Linked DNA regions of Homo sapiens. The protein of the gene in region 7 purifies or fractionates together with the protein of the main gene of each other region. This does not show direct contact. Each region holds a gene or a part of one and is shown on either strand. Other genes may lie near its edges. The genes, in order: YTHDF2, FAM20B, PCF11, SPATS2, ZNF148, USF2 and PHAX.

The links.
Region 1: the proteins of PHAX (region 7) and YTHDF2 purify together in Homo sapiens (affinity purification with mass spectrometry; one large-scale study listed by BioGRID and IntAct). This does not show direct contact.
Region 2: the proteins of PHAX (region 7) and FAM20B purify together in Homo sapiens (affinity purification with mass spectrometry; one large-scale study listed by BioGRID and IntAct). This does not show direct contact.
Region 3: the proteins of PHAX (region 7) and PCF11 purify together in Homo sapiens (affinity purification with mass spectrometry; one large-scale study listed by BioGRID and IntAct). This does not show direct contact.
Region 4: the proteins of PHAX (region 7) and SPATS2 purify together in Homo sapiens (affinity purification with mass spectrometry; one large-scale study listed by BioGRID and IntAct). This does not show direct contact.
Region 5: the proteins of PHAX (region 7) and ZNF148 purify together in Homo sapiens (affinity purification with mass spectrometry; one large-scale study listed by BioGRID and IntAct). This does not show direct contact.
Region 6: the proteins of PHAX (region 7) and USF2 purify together in Homo sapiens (affinity purification with mass spectrometry; one large-scale study listed by BioGRID and IntAct). This does not show direct contact.

Annotation. Positions count from the first base shown.
Region 1 is NC_000001.11:28,739,940-28,743,439, reverse strand, and holds part of YTHDF2 (YTH domain-containing family protein 2), read right to left. Parts: intron 1,038-3,500; coding exon 1-1,037. UniProt on the Homo sapiens protein: Specifically recognizes and binds N6-methyladenosine (m6A)-containing RNAs, and regulates their stability. M6A is a modification present at internal sites of mRNAs and some non-coding RNAs and plays a role in mRNA stability and processing.
Region 2 is NC_000001.11:179,067,394-179,070,893, reverse strand, and holds part of FAM20B (glycosaminoglycan xylosylkinase), read right to left. Parts: intron 1-3,500. UniProt on the Homo sapiens protein: Responsible for the 2-O-phosphorylation of xylose in the glycosaminoglycan-protein linkage region of proteoglycans thereby regulating the amount of mature GAG chains.
Region 3 is NC_000011.10:83,177,631-83,181,130, reverse strand, and holds part of PCF11 (pre-mRNA cleavage complex 2 protein Pcf11), read right to left. Parts: intron 3,471-3,500; coding exon of another isoform or gene 3,424-3,470; exon of another isoform or gene 3,418-3,423; coding exon 3,312-3,417; intron 124-3,311; coding exon 1-123. UniProt on the Homo sapiens protein: Component of pre-mRNA cleavage complex II, which promotes transcription termination by RNA polymerase II.
Region 4 is NC_000012.12:49,489,462-49,492,961, reverse strand, and holds part of SPATS2 (spermatogenesis-associated serine-rich protein 2), read right to left. Parts: intron 3,498-3,500; coding exon 3,389-3,497; intron 2,281-3,388; coding exon 2,231-2,280; intron 1-2,230.
Region 5 is NC_000003.12:125,225,326-125,228,825, reverse strand, and holds the end of ZNF148 (zinc finger protein 148), read left to right. Parts: 3' UTR 1-3,157; downstream 3,158-3,500. UniProt on the Homo sapiens protein: Involved in transcriptional regulation. Represses the transcription of a number of genes including gastrin, stromelysin and enolase. Binds to the G-rich box in the enhancer region of these genes.
Region 6 is NC_000019.10:35,267,560-35,271,761, reverse strand, and holds the start of USF2 (upstream stimulatory factor 2), read right to left. Parts: upstream 2,801-4,202; 5' UTR 2,661-2,800; coding exon 2,599-2,660; intron 2,317-2,598; coding exon 2,270-2,316; intron 2,182-2,269; coding exon 2,063-2,181; intron 1,960-2,062; coding exon 1,759-1,959; intron 1,316-1,758; coding exon 1,165-1,315; intron 1,045-1,164; coding exon 957-1,044; intron 680-956; coding exon 621-679; intron 1-620. Other genes in the region: LSR (lipolysis-stimulated lipoprotein receptor isoform 2 precursor), read right to left, coding at 3,903-3,938, 4,028-4,202.
Region 7 is NC_000005.10:126,621,447-126,624,946, forward strand, and holds part of PHAX (phosphorylated adapter RNA export protein), read left to right. Parts: intron 1-3,128; coding exon 3,129-3,398; 3' UTR 3,399-3,500. UniProt on the Homo sapiens protein: A phosphoprotein adapter involved in the XPO1-mediated U snRNA export from the nucleus.

The DNA.
Region 1 (3,500 bases), on a different chromosome or scaffold from region 7:
TCCAACACTGGGTGGGGTTCTGAAGGAGTAGATCCAGAACCAGCCTGAGACTGTCCTACTCCATTACCATCCACCCCATTATGACCGAACCCACTGCCACGGTTCCGAGGTGCTACCCAGCGGGTTGGCTGAGCTGCCTGTTGCTGGACTGAAAGCTGGGCAGGCTGTGGTGGAGGTGGAGGCAATGGCTGTGTCTGTTGCCCTACTGATGCCTGAGCCACTGGTGGGCTATTGTTAGCCTGCTGACCTACAGGCTGAGGAGACCCCTGGGTTGGCTGACCTATATTCTGAACCAAAGCCTGTGAGGGGGCTTTTGCAACGGGACCCTTGTTATCCCAAGTTCCAATATCCATGTTATGCTTTATCGGGGGTGGCGGAAGACTTGACCCTGCAATGCCATTCTTGGTCTTCAGTTTAGGTTGCTGTTTTGCAGGCTTGCTAGCAATATCAGCCCAAGATGCTGGTTTTGGAGGAGCAATGGTGGCTGGAGGCAAACTATTGGAAGCCACGATGTTACTAGTAATGGACCCGCTACCAACAGCAGAACCTACAACTTTTGGAACATTGCTTGCAACTTCTGTGCTACCCAACTTCAGTGCTGCCATCCCTTGGTCTATAGTATTCATGCCAGGAGCCTTATTGAGGGTCTCATTGGCAAAAGCTGACTGTCCATCAATCATGGCTCCACCTAAGGAGCTAGGTGCATAAGCATAATTGCTACTATATCCAGAGCTCTGAGTAGACTGTCCCTGAGAACTGTTATTTCCCCATGCTGAGAAGTCAATCCCACTGGGAAAGAAATTAAAACCATGCTGACCAAGAAATGGAGTGCTACCTAGGGCTCCTGGTTGCCCAAACATTGCATCTGGTAGGAAGTGGGGCTCTCCGTTGCTCAGCTGTCCATAAGAAGTTAAGTAGGGCATGGCTGTGTCACCCCCCGTAGACCAAGCAGCTTCACCCAAAGAATAGGAGAAGCCAATGGAGGGACTGTAGTAACTGGGTAAGTAGGAATCTGACATGGCAGTATATGCATTATTCTGTGGAAGAAAAAAAAAGGCAAATCAAAACACAAAAAATTAACATCAGGCTATTTCCTCCCCCCACCTAGTCACGCAATTCAAATATACTATAAAAAGGAGTGTGCAGGCCGGACGCGGTGGCTCACACCTGTAATCCCTACACTTTGGGAGGTGGAGGCGGGTGGATCACCTGAGGTCAGGAGCTCGAGACCAACCTGGCCAACACGATGAAACCCTGTCTACTTGGGAGGCCTGAGGCAGGAGAATCACTTGAACCCAGGAGGCGGAGGTTGCAGTGAGCTTAGATCGCACCACTGCACTCCAGCCTGTGGGCAACAAGAGTGAAACTCCATCTCCAGGAAAAAAAAAAAAAGTGTGCAGCACATCAGATGATTTCCTATAAACACAAGGGCATTTTTTATATCATAAGAAATTTTGGTGTAATAACTGAAATGTTTAAACATTTAAAGTTAAGCTGATACAGTGAATATGGGCCTTAGCTTTAGCACTACAACTAAGTAAAGAGAAAACTTAGCATTTCACAAACTGTTTAAGTCCTGAGTGTTGAGATAATCCTTTTATCAACTTCCTATACAAACCAGGTGATAATAAAACAAGAATAACAAAAAGAAATGGAAATTTCAAGTTCTAGCCCAAATGTCTGTACAGCCGTTCCTCAATCATAAACCAAAAAGCAAGGTTCACTACCAGTTTATAGTGCTAGCCTCTTGGCAAACTATCTGGGAATATCAATAGATCCCACTACTCAGTTATAACCTGAAAAGGAAATGCACAGTGGTTTCTGGAGGATGTAAAATGAGAAATATGGCCAGGCGCAGTGGCTCCCGCCTGTAATCCCAGAACTTTGGGAGACAGAGGGGTGGATGACTTGAGGTCAGTTCGAGACCAGCCTGGCCAACATGATAAAACCCAGTCTCTACTAAAAAGACAAAAAATTAGCTAGGCATGGTGGCACACACTTGTAGGCCCAGCTACTCAGGAGGCTGAGGCGGTAGAATTACTTGAATCCAAGAGGCCGAGGTTGCAGTGAGCCCAGATGGCACCACTGCACTCTAGCCCAGGCAACAGAGCCAGACTGTCTCAAAAAAATAAAATAAAAACAGGCCGGGCACAGTGGCTCACGCCTGTAATTCCAGCATTTTGGGAGGCTGAGGCGGGCAAATCACTTGAGGCCAGGAGTTGGAGACCAGCCCGGCCAACATGGTGAAAGCCCGTCTCTACTAAAAATACAAAAATTAGCCAGGCGTGGTGGCACCTGCCTGTAATCCCAGCTACTCAGGAGGCTAAGGTGGGAGAATTGCTTGAACTCAGGAGACAGAGGTTGCAGTAAGCCGGACTGCACCACTGCACTGCAGCCTGGGCAACAGAGCAAGACTCCGTCTCAAAAAAAATAAATAGCCGGGCGCGGTGGCTCACACCTGTAATCCCAGCAATTTGGGAGGCCAAGGTGGGAGGATCACGAGGTCAGGAGATCGAGACCATCCTGGCTAACACAGTTAAAACCCCGTCTCTAGCAAAAATACAAAAAATTAGCCAGGTATGGTGGCGGGCGCCTGTAGTCCCAGCTACTCGGGAGGCTGAGGCAGGAGAATGGTGTGAACCCAGGAGGTGAAGGTTGCAGTGAGCCGAGATCGCACCACTGCACTACAGCCTGGGTGACAGAGTGAGACTCTATCTCAAAAATAAATAAATAAATAATACATAAAAACAAAAGTGAGGTCTTTTCACACATACCCTTTTCACATTTAAAATTTCTCACAAAGGTAAGGTTAAAAATTTTAGCAGACCCAAATCCACATATATAAGAAATTCAGCCTATAATCAACAGATTAAACTTGAAGTATTATTCCAAAATAGGGTAATGAAAAATTGGCTAAAAAGTAGATGACTTACTCTAGACAATGAACTAGATTCTCAGGTTACCCTTCCTCATCTACTCATCTAAGATTTATATTATTAGCCAAATTTTTTTTAAACAAAGACATTTAAGCTTTGGCTTACCTGAGAAAGAAAAATCAAATGCACTTAATATCACAGGTTATGCCAAGACACAGTTGAATGTCTGTACCTGAACTGGCAGGCTCCCACATGCTCAAGCTAAAAAATTTGAATTACACAATGTTTTACAAGAACTACCTAGAATTATGCTTCTAAATGCTCCAACTCTCCCTGTTATAATGATTATGTAAGCAAACTACTTCAATAGCAGGAACCTATTAATAGTTCATTCCTCTACTTCCTTCCCTACTTTTCCTGATTAACTGGTTGTGTTTTGTGAAAACTTTTTTCCAATCACTTGCTCAAGTGGTTTCTATACTTTCAGTGTTGAAAATTTTACACAGGGATTCTACAAGTTTTATGTGATAATCAGATCCATATATGGGCATGCAGTTATTCAGGACTACCAACTATGTTTCATACAGCATACGTTCAGAACTTATAAATTTCTTGACCTTTCAG
Region 2 (3,500 bases), on a different chromosome or scaffold from region 7:
TTTAAGAGGTCGTTAGGCCATGAGTGCTCTGCCCTCATGGGTGGAACTAATGCTGTTATTAAAAGGCAAGTTCAAGGCCAGGAGCGGTGGCTCACATCTGTAATCCCAACACTTTGGGAGGCCGAGGTGGGCCCTCAGGTTGGGAGTTCAAGACCAGGCTGGCCAACATGGTAAAACCCCGTCTCTACTAAAAATACAAAAATTAGCTGGGCGTGGTGGCAGGTGCCTGTAATCCCAGCTACTTGGGAGGCTGAGGCACAAGAATCACTTGAACCCGGGAGGTGGAGGTTGCAGTGAGCCAAGATTGTGCCACTGCACTCCAGCCTGGGCAAAAGAGCAAGACTCCATCTCAAAAAAAAAAAAAAAAAAAAAAAAAAAGGCGAGTTCAGCCCCTTGTTGCCCTCTCTCTTTGCCCTTTTGCCTTCTGCCATGTGACATGATGACACAGCAATAAGTCCCTTGTCAGATGCTGGCACCTTGATATTTAACGTTCTAGCCTCCAGAACTGTGAACCAATAAATTTCTGTTCATTATAAATTACACAGTCTGGCCAGGTATGGTGGCTCATGCCTGTAATCCCAGCACTCTGGGAGGCCCAAGGGGTCAGATCACTTGAGGTCAGGAGTTCGAGACCAGCCTAGGCAACATGGTGAAACCCCATCTCTCCTAAAAATACAAAAATTACCCGGGCATGGTGGTACATGCCTGTAATCCCAGCTACTTGGGAGGCTGAGACATGAGAATCACTTGAACCTGGGAGGCGGAGGTTGCAGTGAGCCAAGATCGCGCCACTGCACTCCAGCCTGGGCAACAGAGCGAGACTCCATCTCAAAATAAGATAAAATAAAATAAAATAAATTACCCAGTCTGTGGTATCCTGTTACAGCAGCACAAAACGAACTAAGACACCAACTATAGCATATCTTTTATTTAAAATCTGAGAAGAAAAGTTCTTAGCTCTCTGTGGGTAAAGGAGGAATTACTGGGTATGCAGAAATGTCTGATTCTGTAAAAGGCAGCCTGTTGTGCAGCAATTTAAAAGGTAAGAAAGACTGCTGCATAAAGCATGCATGGAAGGGACAAACAGGCACAGACGGAGTACAGTTATTTTTATTCTTAAATATATTACAAATGCCCAGAGCATCAGAGCTTCCTCTGTGAGACTAAGTTATTATGTTACTTCCTCTCAGCTCCAAATTCACTCTTCAAAATATGCTCTGCTGGCCAGGCACGGTGGCTCATGCCTGTAATCCCAGCACTTTGGGAGGCCAAGGCGGACGGATCACCTGAGGTCAGGAGTTCGAGACCAGCCCCACCAACATGTTGAAACCCTATCTCTACTAAAAATACAAAAAATTAGCTGGGCGTGGTGGCAGGTGCCTGTAATCCCAGCTACTCAGAAGGCTGAGGCAGGAGAATCGCCTGAACCCGGGAGACAGCGGTTGCAGTGAGCCGAGATCGTGCCACTACACTCCAGCCTGGGCGACAGAGCGAGACTCCATCTCAAAAAACAAAACAAAACAAAAACAAAAACAAAATGTGCTCTGCTACGACGGATGGGATTCCTTTAAGCATCTTTCCCCTAAAGCATTCTCACTAGAGGGCGCAAAGGGGACACTGCAGGGTGAAGGGGCTCTCCAAATGCTTCTGTGGGTCAATGGTGGTGTTGGGGAGGCAGAGAGGTCATCCACTGAAGACCTGTCTAGCCACACTCCCAGAAGGTGTGGGTCCTTGGTGACCTGAAGCCTTAGCCTGGCCTGGGGATAACTCTCCCGAGGCCCTCTCAACATGGAAACCAGAGCTTTGAAGGCCATCTGCTCACCCTGGCCCCAATTCCCTCTGAAGGCCCACGTGTGTGCCTCACTTGCAGCACAGAAGGTTTCTACTGGATTCTCTCTCTCCTTCTGCATGTCATGACACCAGCTGTGGCTTGAATGTACACCCCACCTGCACTCTGGAGAGTTGCTTCTGGCTTGCTCAGCACCTGCAAACTAGCAAACTTCTCTGCTATCTGGTGGGCTGAGCTAAACCTTCTCCACTGAAGTCCAAACTCCAGTCATTGGGAGGGGATCCCCTTCCAAGTTTGTCCTTCCTTGGGTACTCTCCCTCAGCCCTTTTATAGTCACTCCTGTTATTGGAATTTAATAATTCTTTATATTGGGTCGGGCGCAGTGGCTCACGCCTGTAATGCCAGTAGTTTGGGAGGCCGAGGCAGGCAGATCACAAGGTCAGGAGTTCTAGACCAGCCTGGCCAATATGGTGAAACCCCGTCTCTACTAAAAATACAAAAATTAACCAGATGCAGTGAGGGGCGCCTGTAATCCCAACTACTTGGGAGGCTGACGCAGGAGAATCACTTGAACATGGGAGGTGGAGGCTGCAGTGAGCCGAGATCGCGCCACTGTACTCTAGCCTGGGTGACAGAGCAAGACTCCATCTCCAAAAAAAAAAAATTCTTTATATTAAACACCTCTGTTTATCACACTATGTCTTTGCTATCTCCTGATTGAACCAGACTGATAAAACTACTACCACAAAAACATCTTCAAAGACAAACACACAATTCTTGATTGTATATATCACTGCTTCCTATCATTAATAAAGACAATGAAGGACAGCCTGGGTAAACTGTTACTTTCTACAGAATTTTGTTGTCATTTAAAAAAAGAAAGAAGATTAAGAGACCAGTTGCTATGGCAGTCTTATGTGATATGATGTTGCTGGGAGCTGACCAGTATTAAATGGTGCTCTTGAACTTGTTTTTCTGTGTAGCCAAGCAAGGTGGATCCCAGCTAATTCTTGATGTGCGTGCTCTAAAATTACACCAGGATGGTCGGGCGCGGTGGCTCACGCCTGTAATCCTAGCACTTTGGGAGGCTGAGGCAGGCGGATCACTTGAAGTCAATAGTTTGACACCAGCCTGGCCAACATAGTGAAACCCGTCTCTACTGCAAATACAAAAATTAGCTGGGTTTGGTGGCAGGTGCCTGTAGTCCCAGCTACTCGGGAGGCTGAGGCACAAGAATTGCTTAAACCCGAAAGGCAGAGATTTCGGTGAGCTGAGATCGCACCACCACACTCCTACCTGGGTGACAGATGCAGACCCTGTCTCAAAAAAATAATAAAATAAAAAATAAAATAGTAAAATAAAATTATTTCAGGAATGATGAAAAGAAGCTTCTTAGAGCTTAGACTTTATCTCATTTTCTTGACTCATTTTTCAATTTCTCTGTTCTCTAATACAGAGTTTTTTTAAAAAAACCAATTATTATTTATTATTTATTTTTTTTGAGACAGAGTCTCACTCTGTCACCCAGAATGGAGTGCAATGGCACAATCTCGGCTCACTGCAACCTCTGCCTTCCAGGTTCAAGCAATTCTCCTGTCTCAACCTCCTAAGTAGCTGGAATACTGGTGCCTGCCACCATGCCCGGCTCATTTTTGTATTATTAATAGAGACGGGGTTTCGCCATGTTGGCCAGGCTGGTCTCGAACTCCTG
Region 3 (3,500 bases), on a different chromosome or scaffold from region 7:
TTTTGCCGATAATGCCAGTCCAAATGATCTGCATAAACATCTGTCTGTGATGTTGTAAACCTCATTCCACAAGAGTAACACTGAATACCAGTGTACAGTCGATTTATAACACTGTCATAACGTCTATTTTGAAAAAGAAATAATCTTTAGTGTTGATAATATGGCTTAATGGCCTTTAAAAGCCAATTACAAATATTTCAATTTTCCATACTGTAACAATGGTGAAACCAAGAGCTGGCTGAAACAGTTAATACCCAAAGATCAGTATTATTCTCTAACAATGTGATTGACCCTCTTTACCTTAACTTTGGTGACTTTTGGAAGATGGAGCCTGTCTTCTTATTGATAGCCCTGACCCAGTTATTTATTTCCTTTTAGCTAAAAATGAAATGATCCTGTGCTAGCTAACAAGGCAATAGTTAGCTTATTTTAGTTTGGAGTCAAGTCAAGATGGACATGGCAGAACAGTTAAATTTCACCTCTCTAGATCTTTGGCATTCTGAATAATTCAACTTCTCCACTCTGGTGTAACAGTGAAAAAAGGACAGAAGAAATAATAATAGTATGGATAACTAAAGAGAAAACTTAGAATACCATTGGGAAACAATAATTAGTTTGCTGTGGTCAACAAATAATTAGTTTTTTAAATTCTGGGCTCCCTATTTGGGAAGAAACAGGTATATATAGAAGACCAAGTAAGTGAACAAACAGAGCAGTTATTAACTCCAAGAAAAAAAAAAAAAATAGCCGGGCACAGCGGCTCACGCCTGTAATCCCAGCACTTTGGGAGGCCAAGGTGGGCAGATCACGAGGTCAGGAGCTCAAGACCAACCTGACCAACGTGGTGAAACCCTGTCCCTACTAAAAATACAAAAATTAGCTGGGTGTGGTGGCACATGCCTGTAATCCCAGCTACTTAGGAGGCTGAGGCAGGAGAATCACTTGAATCGGGAGGCGGAGGATGCAGTGAGCCAAGATCACGCCACTGCACTCCAGCCTGGGCCACAGAGTGAGACTCCATCTCAAAAAAAAAAAAAAAAAAATAGAATAAAGCAAATAACAGAACACTGGTACTTTGTTACAGCAACAAAATAAACATCTAGTCACAATATTAATACTGAATAATAAAAAACAGTCTTATAACTACATGGAGGGGAGTTAGTAGGACACTACAAGAGCTAGCTAAATCCACCCCCCGCCCGTTTTTTTTGGAGACGGAGTCTCGCGCTCTGTCACCCAGGATGCAGTGCAGTGGCCCGATCTCAGCTCACTAAAGCCTCCGCCTCCTGGGTTCAAGCAATTCTCCCCACCTCAGCCTCCCGAGTAGCTGGGATTACAAGTGCCCACTACCACGCCCAGCTAATTTTAGTATTTCTAGTAGAGACAGGTTCTAGTAGAGACATGTTACCATGTTGGCCAAGCTGGTCTTGAACTCCTGACCTCAGGTGATCTGCCCACCTCAGCCTCCCAAAGTGCTGGGATTACAGGCATGAGCCACTGCGCCCAGCCTAAATCACTTTCAGAAAGTTAAGAGATTATGTCCAGATGTGGTAAATCAAGAAACAGAAAATTATGTGTATTATAAGAAATAGGTGGCTCAAACCTGTAATCCCAGCATTTTGGAAGGCCGAGGCGGGCAGATGACTTGAGCCCAGGAGTTCGAGAACAGCCTGGACAACATGATGAAACCCCATCTCTACTAAAAATACAAAAATTAGCTGGGCGTGGTGATGGGTGCCTATAATCTTAGCTACTCAGGAGGCTGCGGCAGGAGAATCACTTGAACCTGGGAGGCGGAGGTTGCAATGAGCCAAGACAGGGCCACTGCACTCTAGCCTGGGTGACAGAGTGAGACTCTGTCTCAAAAAAAAAAGGAAAAAGAGGTAAATGGCAGAAAAAATAGTTTGAAAAGTTAAAAAAATAAAATGATTGCCTCTAGGGTACAGTGTTGGGTGAAGGAGAAAGGGATGCCATCTTTTATTAAAAGCCTTTATGTGAAAGTATTACTTTGAAAAAAAAAAGGATTTTACATTATAGTATCTAATTCAAATTTAAAAAATGATTTTAAGAGTGAAAAACTCATTCACTATTTTATTTTTTATAAAGTACTCACAGGATTAATGAATTTATTCACTAGAAAAATCTTTAAATGTTTTTTATAATACAATAGAAAATTATGAAAAGATATGCACCAAATGTTAACAGTTGTTATCCATAAAGTGAGAGTTGTACGTTTTCTTGATTTTATTTATAGTATGTTCTAATTTTCCACAATTAACATTACTTATAAAATGAAAAATAGATTTTTTTTTTTTTTTGAGACACAGTCTCGCTCTTTCGCCCAGGCTGGAGTGCAGTGGCGTTATCTCGGCTCACTGCAAGCTCCGCCTCCCGGGTTCACACCATTCTCCTGCCTCAGCCTCCCGAGTAGCTGGGACTACAGGCACCCGCCACTGCGCCCGGCTAATTTTTTGTATTTTTAGTAGAGACGGGGTTTCACCATGTTAGCCAGGATGGTCTTGTTAGCCAGGATGGTCTCGATCTCCTGACCTCGTGATCCACCTGCCTCGGCCTTACAAAGTGCTGGGATTACAGGAGTGAGCCACCGCGCCCAGCCGATTTTTTTTTAATTGTAAATGCTGAACTATGAAAATCTCATTTCTGAACCTCAAAAATGTTAAGAATATCAATACAGAAAAAATGATGATACACAGAAAATGAAACTAAACAGGAATACATGAATTATCAATACCTAATATTTAAACTCCCTAAGTTTTCTGTATCACAGATTAAAAAATGAAAATTTTGAGGGACCAGGTGTGGTGGCTCACACCTGTAATCCCAGCACTTTGGGAGGCCAAGGCAGGTGGATCACTGGAGGTTAGGAGTTCGAGACTAGCCTGGCCAACGTGGTGAAACCCCATCTCTACTAAAAATACAAAAATTAGCTGGGTATGGTGGTGCACACCTGTAATCCCAGGAGAATCACTTGAACCTGGGAGGCAGAGGTTGCAGTGAGTCAGGATCACGCCACTGAACTCCAGCCTGGGCAGCAGAGTAAGACTTTTGGGGGTGGCCTTTGGCCCAAGTACTTGTACAGCAGACATATTTTAAAAGACGATTTAAAAATAGGCTTCCCAAAGACTATGTTATGTATATTTTACCACATTAAAAAAAAAAAAAGACTTCCTAAATGTTAAAACAGTAAAAGGGATAAAGGGAAAGGGAAAGCACTAATAGTAACAATGTCCACTATAACAGTGTTATTAAAGTCACTGCCTCTTTATCTTAAAGAAAATTAGATTACATACTGTTTCAATTCTTCAACTGTAAAATTAGTAAGATCTGGAACATCTTGATCTTCATTTTGATCTTCCTCCTCTTCAGGGGGAGGCTGAGCAGTTACTTCACTTACTTCTTCAATTAAGAAGAGACATACAAATTTCTTAATACCATTCTCCATGTATTCTCTACAGAGGAACACTATAGTATTATAAGCA
Region 4 (3,500 bases), on a different chromosome or scaffold from region 7:
CACACCCAGCTAATTTTTTTGTATTTTTAGTAGAGATAGGGTTTCACCATGTTGGCCAGGCTGGTCTCAATCCCCTGACCTCCAGTGATCCACCTGCCTCGACCTCCCAAAATGCTGGAATTACAGGCATGAACCACCGTGCCCGGCCTCATCTTTCTTTTTCTTACTTTCCCCCATGTGAACTGGCTAAGTTTTCATATCATTGGGTCATGTATATCATAACTATCCCACTCAGAGTCACATCCTATTGGACTAATCCCAACAGTTAAGTGGACTGGACTGGATTTGTGCATTTGGGACTGCTAAACTGAAGTCATATTTCTTTCTCCAAATTTTAAGGAATGTCTGTGTCTCTAACACACATCCTCTTCCAGGTCCATGCACATCTTATATCACTAGTAACTTATAATCCTGGGCTAATAAATTAAGAAACTGGTGTTAGCTGGGTGCAGTGGCTCATGCCTGTAATTCCAGCACTTTGGGAGGCCAAGGTGCGCAGATCACTTGGGGTCAGGCGTTCGACACCAGCCTAGCCAACATGGTGAAACCCTGTCTCTACTAAAAAATACAAATATTAGCCAGGCGCAGTGGCACGCACCTGTAGTCCCGCCCTACGTAGGAGGCTGAGGCATGAGAATTACTTGAACCCAGGAGGCGGAGGCTGCAGTGAGCCGAGATCGCGCCACGGCACTCCAGCCTGGGCGACAGAGCAAAACTCCATCTCAAAAAGAAAAAAAAAAAAGAAAAAAGAAAAAAAAGAAACTGGTGTTTTCCAGGACACTCACAGTTATCTATGTAACAGGTTGAAAGCAGCAGGAAGAAGTTAAACAAATATTCAAAACTACAGGTATGAAGAGCTTCAGAAGAATCTGTGTAGTATTAGGTAACCCTTGGAAAAAATTCTCAAGCGTCACTGAGGCCAAGCCTGGTTTTTGTTCAAGACCTGACAGGACTCCTAAAAAGTGATGTAAGAGTCATGATGAAAGCATTTCAGAACTCCAGCACTGACTTAATAAAGAAAAGAACACCCCAAACAGATTTCACAGAGATACTTGATTAAAATCCATACTTCAAGCATTTCCTAAAGGGGTTACCTTTACAGTGCAGAGCTGTGGGAAGAATTTTGAGACCAGCTGGTATCCTTTGGGAAAAGCATCTGATTTTAAGTAAATAAGGAGAAAGGAACGAGAACTAATATGTTAGGCGTTGTATTATGTATTTGTATTTATTAGAACTATTTTTCTATTTTAGAGATGAGCAAACTAAGGCACAAATGTTAAGCAATATCAGTCACAATGCCAGTAGATAGTGGAACAGGGTAGGAATCCAGTTCTGACTGATCCCATAGCCTGAGTGCTTTCTACCTCTCAAAGTGGAACATCAGACCCCTCTGCAAGGCACCTAATAGCCTTTTTTTTGAGATCAGGTTTCATCATGTTGCCCAGACTTGAACTCCTGGGCGCAAGTGATCCTCCCACCTCAGCCTCCCAAAGTGCTGGGATTACAGGCATGAGTCACCGTGCCTGGCCAGCACCTAACAGCTTTATGTCAAAGCTCATTAATATCAGGACTACAACCCAGTTGCCCGACCAAAAATCTGAACTGTTTTAACTGATTTATGGTATGAATATGGTTGAAAACCACTCAATTAGATCGCTTTCTCTTGCTTTCCTTGATTTGCTGTCTTTTTCACCCGTCTAATAACTGCACCATGGCAAAGTCATTCTGTTTCCTGCCTTAAATCACACGGAGAGGACTGTGTGGTACTCTGTGAGACACAGCTATGTTTCAAGGTCGAAGAATTTTTTTTTTTTTTTTGAGATGGAGTCTCACTCTGTCACCCAGGCTGGAATGCAGTGGCCCAATCTCGGCTCACTGCAACCTCTGCCTCTTGGGTTCAAGTTATTCTCCTGCCTCACCCTCCTGAGTAACTGGGATTACAGGCACGTGCCACCACACCTGGCTAATTTTTTCTATTTTTTAGTAGAGACGGGACTTCACCATGTTGGCCGGGCTAGTCTTGAACCACTGACCTCAAGTGATCCACCTGCCTTGGCCTCCTAAAGTGCTGGGATTACAGGTGTGAGCCCCTGCACCTGGCCAAAGATGTTTTTTAACCAGGTAAACAGAAGATATGTATGTGAACCTTTTCTTTCAAATATTTTTGCAGAGCCTAAATTTTTAAAAATAATATACACATCATCATGCTTTTAAATGTAATTCATTTTACCTTTTTCTTGCCTGTTACTGTCCATTCTTTGAGTACTTCACTGGCACTACCTGTAAGAGAAACCAATTACAGATTTTGTCTCCTACCACACACACAGTAGTCAAGCAGGAGTCAGTGTCCTCCCATTTTGTAATTGCTGGAGAATTTACAAAGCTCCTAACAGAAAAGTTAAAGTTAAGGATCAGGTCTAAAGTAATGTAATGAGATAATCATGCCATGCTTCCCTTTTGGAATACCTGCCTACTTAGACCCCTCCTCTCCGAGTAATTTCCTCAGTAAGTTCTTCTAAGAAGAGACTAATGTAGCTGGGCCATTTTGAAGATTCTCTTATCCATACATCTTAGACCAAATACAAAGGGGATGGCACACTGGTTTTAGCCAAGTGTGCCATCCTTTCCCCTCCAGTTACACACCCACCTTGGCTATGTTGTTTTGGAGACAGCTGCACATTACCCTAGACCAAAACACTAACATTATTTTTTAAAAAGATGAAGATAAAGAAAAACTTTACAACATTCAAACTTGTGCATCCTATGTTGGCAGATTCAGGAAAATAAAAACAGGGAGACCTAACCTCATGTTGCTATTCAAAGACGCAATAGCTTCAGATAGTTTTTCTCCAACAGGTTACATGGAAGGAAGGTTCATAAAACACTTCTCAATGTTATAAATCTGAAGGGTTGACTAAGCCTGCCATTCTTCTACGTATTAGATAAGGAAATTCAAACCCACACATTTGAGTCACTTGCCACAGCCAAACTAACGATATTAGAATCCGGAAGACAATACTGAGTCCTTGAATTTGCCATCTGTTGGTGAGCCACTGAATCACTGCTTTGTTATTAAGAGTCTCTTAAATTCTTATTCAACCCAAGTCCAATCAAGTCCCTTATACCACTGGCCACATGATTTCCTCTTAAATACCATTAGAGAACATTTAGCGTGAAACAATGGAGTTTTCTCAGCTTATCTCTTATTATAGACACCACATAGCTTATTTCAGCTGAAAGAGGTATCGTCAAATGTCATGGTATGTTATGTTTTCATGGGGTCTGCTCTATCATCTATGAATCACTGGATTGCTGAATGTTATAAAAGTCTGAAGCAAATTCTATTTGAGCAAATATAAATTTATTTTTAAAATTAAGTCAGGATTACCTTCCATGAATGCTTGTACTGTTTTGTCCACACAGTTATCAAAGTGCTGCAAAACCAGGATAATTTCATTGTTGCTCTTATTAGGAACTATTGCACGTACCGCATTTATCTG
Region 5 (3,500 bases), on a different chromosome or scaffold from region 7:
GGTTCATCAAATAAGGATGTACCTATGATTGAATCTTTAATTCTGCACAGTTAGAGTTTATATATAAACGTGTCTTGACAATCAAGGACTTTTATGTGAGTCTTCCTTTATGATGTTTATTAATGTTATGCATTCCATTTGTTTTGAAGTGAGTACCAATGTGCTAATTTGTATTGTCTGAAAGTATGTAATGTTTTTACAGCTTGTTTTTAAGAATCTGTAAATATGTACAAACAAATCACAGTACTGCTTTATGTTAGAAGGCATATGATGTTGTACTGTATGTAAGCAATAATACATAGCAGTGCTAACTTTACAAGTAGCATCAGGAAAGTTCTAAAAACATTTCAGAGTTATTAATTATCCTTATTTCATTTAATAATGATTATCTTTAATCAGTTTTTATAAGCAAATTCCATTGTTCCTCCTATTGGAACGTAACACTGTTTACACAGCATAATTGAAGTTGCAGGGGAGACAGGCTAAATCTGACTTCATCTGTACTCACTTTCACTAAGCATTGAATGGCCTTACCACTCTTCTGCAAGATGGAGGAAGACCGCAAAACTTAGTGCCCATCACACTGAAGGAAGGGATGTGGTTTTTTTTCCTGCTTCTGTACTGCTACCTAACTTTGTGATTTGCTTTGGATTTTAATATTTGTTTCTGTTTTAGATTCAAGCCCGTAAGTTTTGAGGTGACTTCAGCTCCATTGTGAAATAGATAGTTCTCTTCATATTTCATAACTACATTTCAATAATTCTAAACTTTCTACATTGATTTTTAGATACTTATTTTTCAAGCTTGGTTTCTCAGCTGATCAGATGAATTTATTCAACTTCAATACAAAGAAAGACAAACCTATTATAGTTTCAAGTGAGTAGATATTATACTGTACAGGACAGCTATTTGAACACACACATCACTGCTTTAGAAATAAAACCGCCAATTTATAAATGTATATGACCTACATTTTATAGGAAAAAATGTTTTTAAATGCTAGTCATTTATATAATGTGCTTTGAAGGATTTGCTAGTCCACTTCTGTCACTTTTTAGTACACTGGTATCTTTTATATGTAATGTATGCTTTTTATTATTGTAGCAAAGCATTTCAGTAGAAAGAATTTTGCAACAATATGGGGGAAATTTTTCATTGTTGGATTTGAATTATACTGGATTTTATCTGTGTAGTCTTACTTGTCTTTATTTTAATGCTGTCTGAAGGGAACTTGGTATCCAAATAAAGCAGGTAACCTCATTTTACTTCAAGGGCATACTGTGTAGTGCTGAATTTAATCTGAAAATCTGATGATTTTGAAAAGAAAAACAAGTTTATAAACATTGTACAGAAGAAATTAAATGTGTGTGATGGAAATCCTGATGGTGGAGCACGTTGAATTTTCTGATATATAGTGTTATTTTCCTGGGATCCCCTATGCCTTCTTTGTATTTCAACTAATAAAGGAAAAACCCTGTCATTAAAACTGGTAAGATAATAGGATATTCTGATTATACAGTATTACTATTCCTATCCCATTTTCTGACCTTTTCTCAATCACTGTAAATTTTTATTTTCTATTTCCTATTGATAATTAAATATGTACATAATATAGACACTGTTGTATAGAACTAAATGAATTGGGTTGCTATGCTTGAGTGGGTAGTGAAATGGAAATATTTGATGAATACTGAGAGTTCCTAAAATGCTAGAGCAAATTTCCGAGGGAAAGGGGGGCATCGTGTGTCTTGGGAAGGTTGCAGCAGGTTGTTTCTTCAACTCCCTAAGAAATCATTGGGAAGGACTCAACTGCAAACTCGGGATCAGATACAAAATGGGTCTTTCCTTCCCCTCTCCCCCAAAAAATAGGAGCACTAAATTTTAAAATCTACTCAGGTGACAGTTGCTTTGCAATGAAACTTATCACATTGAAATTTTCAGTGTTAAATAAAAAGAGATTTGTGATATTTTTAAATATAAACTTTTACATCAGTAGTCAGCAGCCTGACAATTGAAATTTGGTAAGTCGATATATTTTAAAATATTTTGCTCTCCAAATAGAATTGTTTTTAAACAATTGGGAGGTTTTTTGTTTCTTTAAATATGTTTTAATTGTCATTGTAAAAACAAAATCTTGCTTGACCCTATATTATGCCATGAATGAATTGCTGAGCCTTTATAATACAGTGACAGCTTGTTTCATGCATAGTCATGGAACATAGAGATGTTCTTTAAACTGACCTATTGATAAGAGGTTTAATGAGTTTCACGGCTTTCAACACTATTGTCATATAGTTATCTTTGCCATTTGGAGTTTATAAAACCATTTTATGTATTGTGATACTAAAGGAAGTTGTTTTGCTTTACTTTAAATTGAATTATTAGACTAATATTTGCAAATTCTGCATTTTAAATGTGGACACTGGCTGTTTGAAAAATAAAATATAGAATACAGTTTTATGGATAATTTTCGAGCTGAATTTTTCACAATATTCTGAACCAAATAACGAATGGTAAATATGCAAAAATCATGGTGCATAGATATAACCGTAAAGAGAAAAGAATTTCTGTGTGGAATTAACAGTTACACAAATTGGGTAACAATTATCAGGGCCTTTATTATAGCTTTATGTGGAATGTTATTCTAAAATGCAAGAGTCAAATGTTACTGTCATTGAATATTTTAGACTTGAAACGTGTTTATCATAGAGCGAAGAAAATATGTGTTCTTTTCTTTACAGATAAGACTCTGTTAACCCACTGTCAGCATACGTGGGATTTCTTTTCTTTTTTCTTTCATTAGTGGAGATTTGTTTTCATCCATCTACCACCTTGCCAGTACCCTAGCTTGTGACCAGCGGGATGCATTGTAAGAAAGTTGTCTGTGGTTAGGAGTGCAGTCTGGGTCCATGGAACAAATTTAAACTAATTGGCCCTCGCAATGATCAGTCCTAGGACCCTGGCCTTATTATTAGCATGGTGCTTTAACCAATTGTACATAATAATACCACTGATAGTCTACTAATGCATTTCCTAGATCCCAGTTTTTCTTGAATGATTAGGAATGGTGGGGAGAGGGGAGGGGAGATATTCTACATGATACTTCTCCAATCTTCTAAAGATTATAAGAAAAAATAAAAAATTGAAGTCACTTGAATTAATGTGTTGTCATTGAGTCTTACTCGACAATTTATCATGCACAAAGTGATTATGAAGATTTTCCTGATTATATGTTTGGATTGAATTTAAAAATTTTTTTTTTCAGAATGCTGGCTGTTCTGTTTTATTTCTTCTCTGGTGAACCTGATAGGATATAAATTATATTCATATGATGCATAAAGAATGAATGGAGGTGAAAAGTTTTAAGTGAACTAAAGCTAAAATTTGGGTCTCATAATTTTCTTTCTTTTGTCATTTTCAAGTGTAATTAAAAGGAACATTTTACCCAGACATTCACACAGCTGCATATGCATATGTGTAAGAGCTGGGATGTGAAATGT
Region 6 (4,202 bases), on a different chromosome or scaffold from region 7:
GATGGTTGTTTGGGTGTAAGCACTCTCCTGGCACTTGCACAGTGCTGTGCCCACTGCAGTGGCTACTGACAGGCGGGGCGGGACAGTGCTGAAGGCCAAATGACCTGAGGTGAGACCTGGTGTTTCTGGAAAGGGCAGGATGCTCCGGCCTTAGGTAGCCAGAGGCAGAACTTCATGCAGTTTCTCCCTCAGATGTGCTCCCTGGGGGAACAGACCTACTTCTGGAGGCCAGGCAGGCATGGGAGTGCGGGATGTGAGCATGACAGCTGCCACGTGGAAAGGTCAGCCCACGTGAGCCCGGTCAGCCCCATTTTTCAAGTGGGGCAGGCAATCCGTATGGGAGTGTGAAGTCCACCATCTTAGATGTGGGCCATGAATTCAAGATCACCAGCCGGGTCAACAAATGGCCAGTTCCAATTCACACTCCCTGTCCCTCTACTTCTGACACTGTACTCTCCCCTCGTTGCTCACTTTCTACCTTTACAGCGTCCAGCAAAGCCCTCTGGAGCACTTGTGGCCTGCCCAGGAGTGGCTTCTCTCTCTGTCACTCCACACTCCAGGGCTGGCTGAGCCTGTGAGGGTGGTGGTCAGGGGGACCCGGAGCCACACCTTGTCCTCACCTTCGTTGTGCTGGGCTCTTCTCCTCTCATCTCGGGGTGTTCTGGTTCCATCAATTTTTCTACAAGAGGAGGAAAAAAAAAGGGGGCATGTATTATCGCAGAGCTGTTTGCCCAAGCATCTGCTAAGTATTAGATTTGAAAATTATCTTTGCAAGGTAAATCCATCTGCAAAAACAAAAGACATGATACTTTATGTGCACTAGAGCAGCAGAAACAGGCAAAGAAAAAAAACATTACACCATGTGCCCACTTCATGCTAACTGCCCAGCTTCTACTCCAGAAACCCCTCTTCCTTCCATTTCAACACCAGGCCCTCCAGGTGTCCCCTGCACATACGGAGAGTAAGGGTGTGTCCGGGGGGCGATCGTCCTCTGTGTTCCTGTCTGAAGCACATCCTGGGGCGTCATCATGACGTAGAACTGGCCTGCAGGGAGAGTGGGGGGTTAGTGGCAAGGCAGGGTGAAGTCAGAACTGGCTGGGGGGGCTTCCCTCCCTGCTGGGCCCGTTGCCTCCCCCACCTGCCAATCTGACTTCTACTCCTCACCTCCAGCCTGCAAGCTCTGGTCTGTGGTCTGTACGGACACAGCCGTAGTATCTCCCACACTGGACGCTGGGAAATAGGCAAATCGTGCCTCCCCGCTGACAGCCTCGGCCGCCGGACTGCCACCATTGCTGAAGGGATTTTGGATCACAGCCTGGGGAGTAGGAGGGCAGAGGCTACCCTTAGCTTTCTCTGTTCCTCCATCCCGTCCCCTCATTGCTGTGCTTGGGGTTTACTGCATTCTCTGCAATTAACAGGAGTGGGGACTCCTTCTGCGTGTAGCATTCTGTCCTGTGTTTCAAACAGCCCTGGAACATGGCGGGAGGTCAGCGATCACTTGCTGAGCAAATCCGTTTCGCACTCTAAGAAACTTTCCTCTTAAGACACATCATTCCCATTTTGCGGGAAAAAAAAATTCCAAGAGCACTGTCCCCAGGTTTCACGGTGCACAACAGGGATCTGGCCCCATGCAGCCTGAGGCCTGAAGGCAGCATCCGCTGGGCGACACCTGCCCCACCCCCGGGGCTCCCCAAGAGCAGAGCCAGTGTCCCCTCTCCACTCCCTCCCCCCCCCACCCAGGGGTGGCAGGGCACCTACCAGCGGGAAGGGCGCTGCAGGACCTGGGGGCACAGAGGCAGCGGCGGGGCCCGGGCGCTGGGCTGCCCCGTCCACACCCACCTGGGTCACAGCCTGCTGCCCCCCCGCGAAGGCAGCGGTGGACACGACGCTGACGGCGCCAGCTGTGTCGCCCTGGCCGTCCAGCTGACCATCAGTCACCTGGACTACGCGGTATGTCACCTGCAGGGGGCGGCAGAGCGGCGAGGCCGGCGCTGGGGCCAGGTCCGAGCCTTCCCGGCGCGCCCGCCCGCCCGCCCGTTCGCCCTCGCGGCCCGCCGCTCACCTGTCCTCCATTTGTCTCTGTGCGGAACTGGTACTGGATGTTGTGGTCGCCGAACGCCGCCTGCTGGACGCTGGTGATGGCCACCGCTGTCTGCTCCTCCGCTCCTGGGCCGTCCCCGCCTGGGGCCGAGGAGGGTCGGGGCACGGTCAGGGCCGCGCCGAGCGCCCCCAGCCCTCCCCGGGCGCGGCCGGCCCGGCAAGCACTCACCTTCCTGCAGCTCGACGCCCTCCTCCGCCTCGGGTCCCTTGTCGTGGCTGCCAGGGGCACAGGAGGGAGCAGGGTCAGCGCGGCCCGCGCCCGCGCCCCCGCCCCCGCGCCCAGCTGCAGGGCCCCAGTCCCACCCGGCCGCGCCTGAGGCCGGGGGCGCCGCCGAGGCCGGGGGCCGGGGGCGGGAGGCGCCAGGTCCCCCCCGCGCCGGCGGCCTCCATTTTGAGCCGGGCCCGCGGCCGCTCGGGATCATGGCGGCCCCGGCCTGCAGGCCGCGGGGCCGGGGCCGGGGCCGGGGCGCGGGGGCACGGCCGGGCCGGGGATCTTACCTGGCGGCGGCAGCAGCGGTGGCCGAGGCAGCGGGATCCAGACCCGGGTCCAGCATGTCCATGGGGGGGGCGGGGGCGGGGGGGGCGCGGGGCCCGGGGGGGAGGGGAGGGGAGGGGAGGGAGGGAGGGGAGGGGGCGGGCGGCCGGGGGGGCCCCGAGCCCGGCGCTCACGCCGCGCGGCAGGAGGGGACGGAGGAGATACGGGAGCCGCTCGCGCTGATCACGGGGACAAACAGTGGGGTCATGTGAGGAGGAGATGCCGCCGCCGCCGCCGCAGCCGCCGCCGCTCCTGCAGCCGCTGCAGCCGCCGCCGCCTCCGCCTCCGCCCGCCCGCCGGCTCCGGGCGGCCCGAGGCTCCGGGACGCCGCGCGGCCGCCCCCAGCCCACCCAGCTGCCCGCCCGCTGCACGCGGCCCTCAGGCCTCCTTCCCTGAGCAGCCGCCGCCGCCGCGACTTTTTTTTTTGAACACGGCCCGCCCTGGCTGGCCGCCGCCAGTGCCCTGGATCGCCGGCTCGCGCGGCCGCCGCCCGGCTTGGCCCAGTCCGGCGGCGGATCGCTGCTGCAGCCGCCGCCGCTTTCTATTTTTCCCCCTTTTTTTTTTCCTCCTTTACTTGAGCTGCGCGCGCGCGGCGGCGGCGGCGGCGGCGGCGCGAGCCCCGGGGCGGACGCGCGCTGGGGGGAGGCGGCCCGGGGCGCGCGCGCTGGTCTGTCTCCGGGGGCGGGCGGGCGCGCGCGAGCCCGGGGCTCCGCGGGGCGCGAGGTCGCCGCGCGCCGCCCTGGTGAAACGCGGGTCTGGATGGAACGTCGGGGTACCCGGTGCAGGGGCTGGGGTCGTCGGGGGCCAGGTGGGCTGCCCGAGTTTGGAGACAGTAAAGTAGGTCGGTGGGGGGCTGGGGGGGATGGGCTGGAAGGGGAGAGGAGCGCGCGCGCGTCCCGGACGGCCAGCCTGCGGTGCGCGAAGGCGGAGGGCCGGGGCGCATGCGCACGCCTGGGCGGGGCCGGGGCGCGCACGCAGGCGGGCGGCGGCTGCGCGGGGCACGTTCTCCGGCCGGCGGCGCGGGCGCGGGCCGGGCCAGGCTGGGTCTCTTCCTCCCGGCCCCGGACTCCGGTGCCCCCGGGACGCGGCGCTTTACAGACGCATACGGGAGCAGCCCCGGTCCCCCGCCCCGCGCGGCCGAACAAATGGTTCTCTCCAGAGCTTGTGATTATACGTTTTATTAGACTCGGGAGGGGTATGGCAGGGCTTCATCAGTGTTCCTTCAAATTAAAAAAAAAAATACAAAAGCTACGTAGAAAACGTCAGATCAGACGACTAAACTTTCCCGACTCAGGGCCAAGTTCTGCAAGGGAGAAAGAAAGAAGGGTATGAGCCGCGGGGACCGGCTGGGGGCCCAGGGACGGTCTGGACGCCAGGGAGGGCGGCCCTCACCTTCTTGAGCCTGCGCTCTCGGGACGCCTGCGAGTCGGTCTCCGAGTACGGGGGCGGCGCGGGCGGGTAGTAGGCCTCTTCCTCCTCCTCCTTGTGGGGTCTCCTCCTCTCCTCCGACCCCTTCTTCCTCACAGCCTCCTCCAGTAGCCGCCCATCATAGGGGAGGTCCCCGGAC
Region 7 (3,500 bases):
CAAAGTCCTGGGATTACAGGTGTGAGCCACCATGCCTGACCAATAAAATTTTATTATAGATCATTTATTTCAGATGCCACCTAAATGATGATGTTATAATTATTCTTTTAATTGCTATATTGCTAACAGTCACCATATGTAGAACTTAGAAGCCAGAACTTGACTAAGTTTGTTTTCCTGTTTTAAAATTCCATTTGGGTACATGACCTCACAATTAAGTTTTGTTTTGAAAAATACAAAGTTTTCTGAAGGAAAAAAGCAATAGTTAAAACTTTATTTGCTTTGTTCAAAGAAAAAAAAAAGCTCAGCTAAAACACTAGAGTTAGATCCTTAACTTGGAGAGTTAAGTATATATAGATATGGATGGGAGGGGGGAAATTTTCCCTCAAATTACCTGTCTGCATTTGTGATAAAGATATTAACAACATGTTGCAACAACATTTTGGGGACCATTTCCCACTTTGTTCTATTAAATTCATAACGCATGGGAATGAAGTTTGTTTTTATTTTGTTTATTGTTTATTTTTTTAATTTTTGAGACGGAGTCTCCTAGCTCTGTTGCCCAGGCTGGAGTGCAGTGGTGAGATCTTGGCTCATCCTGGGTTCAAGCAATTCTCCTGCCTCACCCTCCCAAGTAGCTGGGATTACAGGTGCCCGCCACCACGCCTGGCTAATTTTTGTGTTTTTGTTTGTTTGTTTGTTTTTTGAGATGGAGTCTTGCTCTATCGCCAGGCTGGAGTGCAGTGGCGCGCTCTCGGCTCACTGCAACCTCTGCCTCCCGGGTTCAGGTGATTCCCCTGCCTCAGCCTCCCAAGTAGCTTGGATTATAGGCTCGCACCACCATGCCCAGCTAATTTTTTGTATTTTAGTAGAGATGGGGTTTCACCATGTTGGCCAGGATGGTCTCGATCTCCTGACCTCGTGATCCGCCCGCCTCAGCCTCTCAAAGTGCTGGGATTACAGGCGAGAGCCAGCAAACCCAGCCTAATTTTTGTATTTTTTTTTTTTTTTTTTTTTTTTTTTTTTAGTAGAGATGGAGTTTTACCATATTGGCCAGGCTGGTCTCGAACTCCTGACCTCAAGTGATCTGACCACCTCGGCCTCCTGAAATGCTAGGATTACAAGAATGCGCTACCACACCTGGCCAAAGTTTCTTTTTAATAAGGCTTGCCATATTTGGAGAGAAAAGGGCAGTTTCGTAAAATTTACTCAGTGTTACCAAGCATTATACTACTTAGAATTCTTAGCAAGATGCTTGGATATGCTTCCATATAAAATGAAAATGCTTCTACTGTGGCTTCTTCATATTCTTTGAATTAAAGGTAAGTGAACTCTTGGAAAAAATTGCAAATCATCACACTTTTGTGAAGGCAGTATAATAGATTTTAAGAACATTGGGCCGGGCGCGGTGGCTTACCCCTGTAATCCCAGCACTTTGGGAGGCCGAGGCAGGTGGGTCACTTGAGGCCAGGAGTTGGAGACCAGCCTGGGCAACATGGAGAAACCCCATCTCCACTAAAAATACAAAATATAGTTAGGTGTGGTAGCTCACGCCTGTAGTTCCAGCTACTCTAGAGGCCAAGGCATGAGAATTGCTTGAACCCTGGAAATGGAGATTGCAGTGAGCCGAGATCAGACGACTACACTCCAGCCTGGGTGACAGAGCCAGACTCTGTCTCAAAAAAAAAAGAAGAAGAAAAAAAATAAGAATGTAGGAGAAATCAGCAGCTACTTGGGATGCTGAGGCGGGAGGATTGCTTTAGTCCAGGAATTCGAGGCTGCAGTGAGGTATAATTATACACTGCACTCCAGCTTGGGTGACAGCGAGGCCCCATCTCTATCAAAAACTTTTAAAAAGGAGAATATTAGAGAAATCATATGTGAGTTCAGACTTCATACCTTCACATGGTAGCCCTGTAATCTTGTGCCTCATTTTCCACATCTGAAAACAAGGATAGTTAACTACCTCATAAGGCTTTTGTGAGGACGAAATGAGTTAATGTGTGTGTAAAGTCCTTAGCAAAATGCCTGGTACGTAAAAGTACTCACTTGATAACTGGTAGCAAGCCTCATTATATTCTGAATTTACCTTTGTCTTTTCTCACGTATGTACCCTCCTTCTCCCTCCTCAGTTCCTCCTCTTTAGCAAATACTTTTCTTATTTCTCTTCATCAAAACACTCATATTCTGAAGTTTCCCCTTACCTCTTCATTTCAAAGATCTTTACACCTTCCTCTGTTAATTCTGTGTGCTGCTTGTAACTATTTAGCATAAATTTTAGGAGAGAGTCTCCTTCATCCCACCATCTTCCATAGTGCTTTTTATAAACAAGAAGGGATTGGGATTTGTATTCTTTAAGAATATAACAGGGACTGGCTTGGCTTGAGCTTTTTGGAATCCCTGCCCAGGAGATAATAGGGTCCCAGAAGTGTGTCCTGCCTACACTAGCTTCTTTTTTAAACCTTTGAACCGTCTCTGTTTTAGTACAGGTTGACAATCCCTAATCTGAAAATCCAAAATGCTCCAAAACTTTTTGACTTTTTGTTTTGGTTTGGTTTTGGGTTTTTTTTTTTTTTTTTTGAGACACAGTCTCGCTCTGCTGCCCAGGCTGGAGTGCAGTGGCACAGTCTCGGCTCACTGCAACCTCTGTCTCCTGGGTTCAAATGATCCTCCTGCCTCAGCCTCCCTAGTAGCTGAGACTACAGGTGTGTGCCACCACAGCCGGCTACTTTTTGTATTTTTAGGAGAGACAGGGTTTCACCATGTTGGCCAGGCTGGTCTGCAACTCCTGACCTCAAGTGAACCACCCACCTCCGCCTCCCAAAGTGCTGGGATTACAGGCATGAGTCACCATGCCCAGCCTTCATTTAGGAAATTTTTAACTGTAGAGATGATACATTAAGGTAGAATAAGCATGGGCCCTAAACCTAACACTAGGCTGGGTTTAAATCAGTTTCAATCTTGCAATGAGTACTTACTTAATATCTTGAACTCCATCTTAATAATGAGCCTAATAATACTTGTATTTTTTGTAAGAAATGGAGATAATGATTTTAAAGGGACAGTCATGGAATAAACCTTTAATAACGTGGTAGTTCTTGTTTACTAACTTTGTTCCTTTATTACAGGACATTTTCTACATTGAAAACCAAAAGGAATATGAAAATAAAAAAGCTGCTAGGAAGAGGAGAACACAAGTGTTGGGGAAAAAGATGAAACAAGCTATTAAAAGTCTAAATTTTCAAGAAGATGATGATACATCACGAGAAACTTTTGCAAGTGACACGAATGAGGCCTTGGCCTCTCTTGATGAGTCACAGGAAGGACATGCAGAAGCCAAGTTGGAGGCAGAGGAAGCCATTGAAGTTGATCATTCTCATGATTTGGACATCTTTTAAGTACATTTTCAACAGTTTGAGGACTAAGCCTTTCTAAAATAACATTGTAATAAACCATTTTTACTGAGATTGCAACGTTTTGCACTGATAAACATGAGAATC